Linked DNA regions of Homo sapiens: region 1 is linked to region 2. The links come from fine-mapping of genetic effects on gene expression. A gene starts in region 2. The other region holds a variant in brackets. All regions are shown on one strand. Distances are between the middles of the regions.

The links. PIP is the estimated chance that this variant, and not a neighbour inherited with it, causes the effect.
Region 1: its variant is the best candidate, but not a certain one, in a credible set for the expression of MUC5AC in lung (TOPMed, PIP 0.52).

What each region holds. Positions count from the first base shown.
Region 1 is chr11:1,114,295-1,119,664 of GRCh38, reverse strand. No RefSeq gene overlaps it. Among named protein-coding and RNA genes, the nearest start is that of MUC5AC, 41 kb to the left of the region's middle. RefSeq lists an enhancer at 5,159-5,370. The variant C/T (reference allele first, on the strand shown) is at 3,178.
Region 2 is chr11:1,154,887-1,160,256 of GRCh38, reverse strand. MUC5AC (mucin 5AC, oligomeric mucus/gel-forming) reads right to left here and starts at 2,304. Exons shown (of 49, transcript NM_001304359.2): 1 at 2,185-2,304. The coding sequence starts at 2,257.

The DNA of each region.
Region 1 (5,370 bases), 41 kb after region 2:
CCCCACAGCCCTGCCCTCTGTGAGCCGCCATCCAGGGTGGCACAGACCCCACTCTGGGTCCAAGCAGAGATGCAACAGCCCCCAGAGTCCTGAGCCCCCAGACCCAGACAAGGCCAGGCCCCTGCCCTGTGGGACGCCGCCCCCTTCAGCCTCAAAAGGACACTGGGAGCGCAGAGGTGTCACCGCCTGGTTTGGAGAGAAAGAGCTAGAATTCCGGAGGAGGGAGGAGAGCAAGGGACCAGGGACAAGGGCGAGGAGGGGAGGGGGGTCCCGGGCTCCCCCAGCAACGGGTGCAGCCACACCGATGCTGAGTGTTTGCACACAGGGCTGGCCCAGCCACCTTATTTATTTATGAGATTTATGGGGTTTTAATTCAGCCCTACCTAATGACGCACACAGTGGCTGGTCAGCACCCAACATGGGGTACGGGGAGGGGTCCCGCCCTTCGGCTCCTGAGGGCTGGTCAGGAGCCACAGTGACCTGGGGACAGGAGTGGCCTCGGGTGCTCTAAGACCCGTACCTCTGGACTGGAATAAATGGCTAGAGCTCAGCATGGAGGGGTCTTTCTCGAGTGCCCGAGGGGGGCCCCTACTACCCAGCTCCCAGGCCCTCTGAAGCCCACCGGGCCCCACCGTATTCTCCACCTTCTGGGTCTCCAGATACTCTGTCCACTTTGGGGAGACCTTCCAGGGTCTCTGGCCCCCACGCCTCACCTTCCCTTGCCCTCCCAGTTCCCACCAGCCTCCCCACTCCCTCCTTCTCTCAGCCTCCGGAAGATCCTTCTAGAAACACTTCTTCTTGGAACCAACCCAAATGTCCAACAATGATAGACTGGATTAAGAAAACGTGGCACATATACACCATGGAATACTATGCAGCCATAAAAAAATGATGAGTTCATGTCCTTTGTAGGGACATGGATGAAGCTGGAAACCATCATTCTCAGCAAACTATCGCAAGGACGAAAAAACCAAACACCACATGTTCTCACTCATAGGTGGGAACTGAACAATGAGAACACATGGACACAGGAAGGGGAACATCACACACCAGGGCCTGTTGTGGGGTGGGGGAGGGGGGAGGGATAGCATTAGGAGAAATACCTAATACAAATGACGAGTTAATGGGTGCAGCACACCAACATGGCACATTATACATAGGTAACAAACCTGCACATTGTGCACATGTACCCTAAAACTTAAAGTATAATTTAAAAAAACAAAAGGAAACACTTCTTCCTTCTCATCCCTCCCCAGCCCTACCCAGCCCCAGCAGGCCTGCCTTGCCCTCCCACGAGGACCCCAACTCTTCTCCACCAGCCCCAGCCCCCAACAAGATTTCCCAAAAGTGCCTGTTGAGGTCCAACCCCATGCTCAGCCTCTCCAGGCTTCCCTGGGAGCCCCTGACTCCTGCTGCCCAAATCCTGCCCTGTCAGCACCACCTGCCCCAGAGGCGGGACCAGAGACCATCACAGCCACCTCCGCACAGCCCCTCTCACGCTCAGTCACCCCAAGGCCCCTCCCCATGCAGGTGGGTGGTGGGTGGGCGAGGGCCCCAGCTCTGGCCGTGCCCTCAGCCCTGGGCTGCCAGTTTAGGCTGGTCTTAGGGAGCCAACCCTGGGGTATTGGTCTTCTGATCCCACCTCATGGTCTGACCTCATGATCTACCCACCTCAGCCTCCCAAAGTGCTGGGATCACAGGCGTGAGCCACAGCGCCGGCCACTTTTTTCCTCAAATGAATGAATAGTGCTAAATCTTTCTTTTTTCTTTTTTTTTTTTTTGGAGACAAAGTCTGTCATGAAAGCTGGAGAGCAGTGGCGCAATCTCAGCTCACTGCAGCCTCCGCCTCCTGGGTTCAAGTGATCCTTCTGCCTCAGCCTCCCGAGCAGCTGGGATTACAGGCATGTGCCACCATGCCCAGCTAATTAATTTTTATATTTTTAGTAGAGATGGGGTTTTGCCATGTTGGCCAGGCTGGTCTCGAACCCCTGGCCTCAGGTGATCCACCCGCTTCGGCCTCCCAAAGTGCTGGGATTACAGGCATGAGCCACCGTGCCCGGCCCCTCTGACTTTTTTGTTATGGATGATTTCAAACCCTATGAAGAACAGAGTAATGGAATGGACATGACCACTACCTCCTCACCGTCAGCTGTAACTAATATCAGACCTGCCACTCTAGCTCAGGTGTTTTCCATCAAGGAATAAACATCACGGGCAGAAGTGGGTGCCCCTCCCTGCTCTCCAACCCTCTCCAGAGGCAACCGTGACCCTGAATCCAGTGCCTCTCAAAATATTTTATAATTTTACTACTTTTGTAAGTGTCCAGCATTAGGGTCCTGTTTCACATTCACAGAAACGGACAGCATCAGGGTGCAGGATTAGAGACCCGCGATTCATTCCTTCTGCTCGATGCTGGGTTTGCGATGCCTCCTTGTCAAGACAGGCAGTTCCGGTTTAGTGCTGGGCCCCATCCAGAGGATGAATATGCCCAGAGGAGCAGCCCGTTCCTGGTGGACCAGCATGCAGGCCATTTCCAGTCTCCATCCTCCCGGGTGGGCAGCTCCCTGGGTGCCCAGAAGCAGGACTGTGTCCTCAGCTTGGCTGCCCTGACCAACCGCTCTCCCCTAAACGCCCCAGCATGTTCTCTCTGGAGGTGTGAGAACCTTCAGCTGGTCTCAAGGATTATCACGCCCTTCCTGGGGTCCCAGTGGCCGAGCCTCCCTGCTGGCTACTCCCTGTGTTGTCCGTGTTTCCTCCTGTGTGACCCCCGCCTGTCCGCGTCTCCTCCTGTGTGACCCCCGCCTCAACCCTGGGCTGCTTGTCTGACCATGACGTTCGCTAGATCTCCTGGACTCCGGCCTCAGCGCCGGATGCACAGAGATGACCTCCTTCCACTCCCTGGCTTGTATTTTTACTTAGTTATGTTGTCTTTTTTCAAACACAGTTTTTAAAATGTAATGTGGTCAAATGCGTCTCTCTTTACTTTGATAGCTTGTGACTTTAGTGACTTAAGAAACCCTTTCCTACCCTGAGGTCATCAATATTATGCCTGTTTTCCTTCTAAATGTTTTCAGGTTTAGCTTTTCACATCTGAGTTGTTTAATCTACCTGGTGTTTTATTTTTGTTTAGAGCGTGACACAGGCACCTAATTTTCCCCATGTAGAGAAGCCCCGGCC[C/T]AGCACACTCAGGGGACAGCCCAGCACACTCAGGGGACAGCCCAGCCCAGCACACTCAGGGGACAGCCCAGCCCAGCACACTCAGGGAACAGCCCGGCCCAGCACCCTCAGAGAACAACCCTCCTTCCTTGTAGATGTGGAGCACCCACCCACCTCAAAGCATCATCGTAAGCACATGGGCTGTTCCAGGCATCCACTTGCCTATCCCGGCACCAATGCCACGCTGTCTTAGAGGCAGGCGTCCCACATGATTCTTCTCTGAAACTCACTTAGCTCTGCTTGGCTCTCTGGCCTTCCACGTGGACCTTTGGACCAGCCGGCCAAATCCCACGAAAAACTCAGCTGGGATTGAGAAAGGCTGTTTGCGGAGAATCGACCTCGTTTTTCACTTTTTAAAATTAATCTCATTTTTCAAAACTTACACTTTTCATTCATGAACGTGGCATACGTCTCCATCAGTCAAGTCTTCTTTTATGCCCTTTGCAATGTTATAGTGGCCTGGACACCTTCCATCTGACGTTTTCTACATAGGTATCTTCGTAGGTTTTGAGGCTGCTGTTAATGAAGTATTTTTCTATTATATTTCAGCTTGGTTTCTACTGGTGTAAACATACGCTATTGTTTTTTCCCTCATCAACCTTGTCTCCAACATTACTGAACCCTCTCATTAGTTCAAATAATAGAGTCAAAAATTCTCTTGGTTTTTACATCTTCATGTTTCTTTCTTTGTTTGTTTGTTTGTTTTTGTTTGTTTTTGAGACAGAGTCTTGCTCTGTCACCCAGGCTGGAATGCAATGGTGTGATCTCGGCTCACTGTAACCTCCGCCTCCCAGGTTCAAGCCATTCTCCTGCCTCAGCCTCCCGAGTACCTGGGATTACAGGTGCCCACCACCACCACCTCCCGGGTAATTTTAGTATTTTTAGTAGAGATGGGGTTTCACCATGTTGGCCTGGCTGGTCTTGAACTCCCAACCACAGGTGATCTGCCTGCCTCAGCCTCCCAAAATGCTGGGAATACAGGCGTGAGCCACCGTGCCCAGCCAGTTGGCTTTTACATCTTGATAATCACATTATATGAAATAAAGGCCAGGTACAATGGCTTACACCTGTAATCCCAGCACTTTGGGAGGTCAAGGCAGGCAGATCACTTGAGCCCAGGAGTTCAAGGCCAGTCTGGGCAACATAGCAAAACCCTGTCTCTACAAAAAATAAATTAAAATGAAACAAATCAGGACAGTTTTGTTTCCCAATGCTGGTCTTCATTTCTTCTTGCTCTTGTCTCACGGACTTGGTGAAGCCTCCAGCACCCCCATAGAGGGAAGGCACAGCCATCGCCAACATCTCCCATGTCCGCTGGCTTCTGTGGGAGTGATTCTCAAGTCCCAGCAAGCGGAGGGGTTCGATGTGTGCTGTAGTTTCTGGGCAGATGTTCCTAAACAGGTTAAGACGGCTTCCTTCTAGTCTGGGCTTGCTCTTTTTATAATAGCGAGTTGAGACACGCTGTTGACTCCCATCAGACACCTGTCTGCACCTAAGATCCTTCCGTTTTTAAATCCTCCACACGTCTCTGGCACCCTCTCCTGCCTGGTGGTGGTACAGCAGCCCCAGGGACTCGGTGTCTGAGCAGAGCCAGAACCTCTCAGGGGACTGGGACATGGACAAGACCCTCGGTCTCCCGTCCCCACACCGTGACCACGGAGGCAATAGCTGCTCCCACAGCCTAGGCCCTGGAGTGAGCGGATGTAGTGGAGGGCACCAGCCACGCAGCCACAAACGGAGCATGAACCAGACAGAACCCTGCTGCCGTGAACCACCAAGACTCGGGGCCAGGTGCAGTGGCTCACCCCTATAATCCCAGCATTTTGGGAGGCCGAGGCGGGCAGATCACCTGGGGTCAGGAGTTCGAGACCAGCCTGGCCAACATGGTGAAATCTCATCTCTACTAAAAATACAAAATCAGCTGGGTGTGGTGGTGGGCGCCTGTAATCCCAGCTACTCAGGAGGCTGAGACAGGAGAACCGCTTGAACCCGGGAGGCGGAGGTTGCAGTGAGCCGATATCACACCACTGCACTCTAGCCTGGGTGACAGAGCGAGAATCTGTCTCCAAAAACAGAAAAAGAAAAAGGGTCTTTGCAGATGTGATTAGATTGAGGACCTCACGAGATCAGCCTGGATTATCAGGTGGGCCCTAA
Region 2 (5,370 bases):
CAGTGATCCCACTGAGGGGCTGGAGCAGTCAAAGGCATGGGAGGGGTCGGCCCCAAGACCACCTGGAGGACCCTGCCTCCCTACAAGCAGCAGACCCTGCAGGAGGCTGATCTTCAGGGTCCATAGAGACTGTGCTAATGTGCAGAATGTCACCAGATTTCAGCCCGGCCCAGCCCCGCACAGCCCTGCACAGAGCCAGCATAGTGGGACCAGACCACAGCCTCGCACAGCCCTGCACAGAGCCAGCATGGTGGGACCAGACCCCAGCCCCGCACAGCCCTGCACAGAGCCAGCATGGTGGGACCAGCCCCAGCCCCACACAGCCCCGCACAGCCCGTCGCAGAGCCAGCATGGTGGGACCAGCCCCAGCCCCACACAGCCCCACACAGCCCCACACAGCCCCGCACAGAACCAGCATGGTGGGGCCAGACGCCAGCCCTGCACAGCCCTGCACAGAGCCAGCATGGTGGGACCAGACCCCAGCCCCGCACAGCCCTGCATAGAGCCAGCATGGTGGGACCAGACCCCAGCCCCGCACAGCCCCACACAGCCCCACACAGCCCCGCACAGAACCAGCATGGTGGGGCCAGACGCCAGCCCCGCACAGCCCTGCACAGAGCCAGCATGGTGGGACCAGACCCCAGCCCCGCACAGCCCCGCACAGCCCCGCACAGCCCCGCACAGCCCCGCACAGCCCCGCACAGCCCCGCACAGCCCCGCACAGAACCAGCATGGTGGGACCAGACCCCAGCCTCGCACAGCCCCTCACAGCCTCGTACAGCCCCGCACAGCACCCCAGCATGGGGGGACCAGACCCCCCACACAACCCCGCACAGCCCCGCCCAGCACCATCATCGTGGGACTGGACCCCAGCCCCGCACAGCCCCGCACAGCCCCGCACAGCACCAGCATGGTGGGAGGGGCGCCCGGCCCAGCCCAGGACCTGCAGAGAGGGGTCTTAGGGAAAGCTGTGATTCGCCTGCACCCCAGCCCCAGCTTTCCAGTTCCCGCAACTGGCATAGGGGTCCTCAGGCCAGGCTGGGAGACCCCCCTCGCCCTCACACCCTCTGGCCCCAGTGGGGCCCACTGCATCAAATCCGTCAGTGGGCGGAGGGGTGTTAGCATCTGCAAGCCCCGTGGGGGAGACGGAGATGACGGCCTGAGCCTCACTTATCTAGTCCCAGCCCAGGCCTGCCCCCACCTTCTAAGCCCCCGCAGACCCCAGCCCCAGCTCCGCCCTCTCCTGGGAGCAGCCCCGGGACAGAATTCCTGCTTCTGAGATGAGGGTGGTACAGACGAGGGACGGCGGGGCAGAGTCCGACTAGGCCACAGTGGAGGGTGGCACGGAGACACCGGGAGAGGGTTCTTCTTGCTCTGAGACTGCCTGGCAGAGGGCCAGAGGCTGGGGACAGGGCTGGGCGAGGGACCTGGGTGGGCCATGTGGCGGTCTCGGCAGTGCTGAGGTCCCTGCCCTGCTGTTCCAGGAGCCCAGGAGCACCCACCCCCCTCCAAACCCCGGCATTACCCCATGGGGGCACATGGTCACCAGCAGACCCGGTCCCAGGTGTCCCTCAGAAGCAGAGGAAGGGAACTGCTGGCCCAGCAAGGGGCAGTCCAGACCACAGGACCTGGAGCCTCCCCCATCACCCTCTTAGCCTCAGGGCGGGGGTGAAACAGTTCCCTTGTGGGCCTCACCATCACATCCCAGCTCAGAGGCTGAGACCTCCCCCCGCAGGAGATCCCCATCGAGGCCCAGACAGGGAACGTGAGCTGGTGAACTGGGCATGTGTGGGGTGTGCAAGGGCAGGTGCCTGGGGCTAATGCCCCGACCAGGCCCAGCAGGGGCCATGAGCAGCTGGAGATACTGTGGGCCAGGTGCTGTCGGCTTCTGGGGACAGGTGCAGGGATCCGGGCCGGGAGGGAAAGCCCGAGATCTGAGCTCCTACTTCCCTGCCTCAGGGAATGGCCCAGCCTCAGAGGTCCGCGAAGCCCAGAGATCCCTTCCCAACCCCACAAGGGGAAACTGCTCGTTCGTGGCCAGGCCACAGTCAGGGGCTATGCTGCTGGGAGCCGTTCATGGCACATGCAGCCTGCCCGGAACCCAGGGCAAAGACTGAGCTGCCTGAGGCCCACTCAGTACCGCACCACCCAGGACCAGTAGAGCGGCCAGGGGCCAAGCCGTACCTGTATGCCGGGTGCAGGCCAGAGCGAGAGCCAGGGCCCAGAGCAGGGCCAGCTTCCTCCGGCCAACACTCATTGTGTGGACGGCGGGGAAGAGTGCCCTGTCCCTCAGCAGCCTCTGAGGAGGGACCCAAGGTGGCAGGAGCTTTTTGTAGCCCCAGAGCTGGCTCCAGCCCCGTGCTTCACGTGGGTGGGCAGGGCGGGGCCTGTGGTTCCCCCTCACCCAAGTAAACAGTGGGTGCTCACTGCGGGCTGGCCAGCGGCCGGTGGCAGGCGGAGATGGGTGTGTCTGCCGGATAGAGCCCAGTTTCCGAGGGCCCCCCCAAGCCCTGGCCTGCAGGGGTCCTCCCCACATACCCCACCCTAGACTCTCCCTGGGCACCGTGCCATGCCCAGCAGCCTGTGAGTTCCTGGTGCCCAGAAGTGAGTGCTCAGAACAGCCTTAAGGCACCTCTTTGACACTAATCCCTCTGCAGCAGGACAGGGGGCCCAGCCCAGCCTTTCCCTTTCCTGCCATTCCTCCCATGGCCGACCTCCTGGTTGGACCCTCCACATGGGCAGTGGAGCTGCCGACCTTGGCTGGGGAATGTGTGGCTGCCTGGGAGGGAGAGGCCAGCCCCAGCCCCATCCAAAGCTCCTTATGGTCACCTATTTCTCCATTTCTGTGCCTTTTACTCCCCATGTCTTGTCTTACCCGGATGCCTAGAGAGAGAGCACATGCGGCAGGAGTGTGGCGAAAGGAAAAATGATTGAGTGAGTGAATGAATGAGTAAATGAGTGATTGAGGAGTGAGTGAGCCAAGGCGTCCCTCAGGCCAGCCACATGCTGCCACTGAAGTAGCGCCAGCCAGCCTCACCCTCCCTGGAGAGGGGCTCCTGGCAGCAGCCTCCAGGCAAATGATAGAACCCCTCCCTCACCATGCAGCCCCCTCCCAGCATTGCCCAGGAGTCCACCTGTGCTTCTGTCTCCTGACCCCAGGCGGGCAGGGCCAGTTCAAGTCACTTGATGGTCTCTGGCCACCAAGATCCAGAAATGCTCAGTACCCTCTGGACAGGAAGCTGTTGACTGGTCCGAGCAGTCCCAGCACAGAAAGGTCCCAGTGAGTCTTTGGCCTGAAGGGCTCTGGCTGAGAAGGTGCTGTTGTGTGATGAACACTTGCCCAGACCACAGGTGTGTGGCTGGACACTGTGGCTAGACTCTCCCTCCCAGGCAGCCACACACTCCCCAGCCAAGGTCGGCTGCTCCACTGCCCATGTGGAGCGTCCAACCAGAAGGTCTCCCATGGGAGGAATGGCAGGAAAGGGAGAGGCTGGGCTGGGCCCTTTGTCCTGCTGCAGAGGGGTTAGGGTTGAAGAGGTGCCTCAAGGCTGTTCTGAGCACTTGCTTCCAGCTCTCTAGGGACCCGTCCCAAGCTCTTTATGATTGCCTACTTCTCCATTTCTGTGCCTTTCCCTCCCCATGTCCTGTCTTAGCCCAGGTGCCTAGAGAAAGAGCACTTCACATGTGGCAGGAGTGTGGGGAAAGGGAAAATGATTGAGTGAGTGAATGAATGAGGTAATGAATAAGTAAGTGGATAAATGAGTGAGTCTATGAGTAAATGAGTGAGTTAAAATGAATGTGAATGAGTGAGCGAGTGAGTGAACAGGTGAGTGAGTGAGTAAATGAGTGAGTAAATGAGTAAGTGAATGAGAGAGTGAATGAGTAAATGAGTGAGTAAATGAGTAAGTGAATGAGAGAGTGAATGAGTGAGTGACTGAGTTAATGAATAAATGTGAATGAGAGAGATAGTGAAAGAGTGAATAAGCAAGCAGTGAATGAGTGAATGAGTCAGTGAGTGAGTGAATGAGTGAATAAGTGAATGAGTGAGTCAATGAGTGGGTGAGTGAGTGAATGAGTGAGTGAATGAGTGAATGAGTCAGTGAGTGAGTGAAAGAGTGAATGAGTTAATGAGTCAATGAATGAGTGAGTGAATGAGTGAGTAAATAAGTTAGTGAGTAAGTGAAGGGGGAATGAGTGAGTGAATGAGTCAATGAGTTAGTGAGTGAGTGAATGAGTGAGTGAATGGGTGAATGAATGAGTAAATGAGTGAGTGAGTGAATAAATGGGTGAGTGAATGAATAAGTGAATGGGTGAATGAGTGAGGGAATGAGTCAATGAGTCAGTGAGTGAGTGAATGAATGATTGAGTGAATGGGTGAATGAATGAGTGAGTGAGTGAGTAAATGAGTGAGTGAATGAGTGGATGCATGAGTGAATGAGTGAGTGAGTCAATGAGTGAGTGAGTGTATGAGTCTATGAGTGAATAAGTGAGTGAGTGAATGGGTGAATGAATGAGTGAATGGGTGAATGAATGAGTGAGTGAATGAGTGAATGAATAGATGAGTGAATGAGTGAATGAGTAAGTGAATGAGTGAGAGTGAATGAGTGAGTGACTGAGTTAATGAATGAATGTGAATGAAAGAGATAGTGAAAGAGTGAATAAGTGAGCAGTGAATGAGTGAGTGAATGAGTCAGTGAGTGAGTGAATGAGTGAATAACCAAATGAGTGAGTCAATGAGTGAGTGAATGAGTGAGTCAGTGAGTGAGTGAATGAGTGGATGCATGAGAGAGTGAATGAGTTAATGAGTCAGTGAGTGAGTGAATGAGAGAGTGAATGAGTTAATGAGTCAATGAATGAATGAGTGAGTAAATGAGTGAGTGAGTAAGTGAATGGGTGAATGAGTGAATGAGTCAATGAGTCAGTGAGTGAGTGAATGGGTGAATGAATGAGTAAATGAGTGAGTGAGTGAATAAATGGGTGAGTGAATGAGTAAGTGAATGGGTGAATGAGTGAGGGAATGAGTCAATGAGTCAGTGAGTGAGTGAATGAATGAGTGAGTGAATGGGTGAATAAATGAGTGAGTGAGTGAATGAGTGAATGAGTGGGTAAATGAGTGAGTGAATGAGTGGATGCGTGAGTGAATGAGTGAGTGTATGAGTCTATGAGTGAATAAGTGAGTGAGTGAATGGGTGAATTAATGAGTGAGTGAATGAGTGAGTAAATAAGTGAATGAGTGTATGAGTGAATAAGTGAGTGAGTGAAAGTGTGAGTGAATGGGCGAATTAATGAATGAGTGAGAGAGTGAGTGAATAAGTGAGTGAGTGAATGGGTGAATGAATGAGTGAATGGGTGAATAAGTGAGTGGGTGAG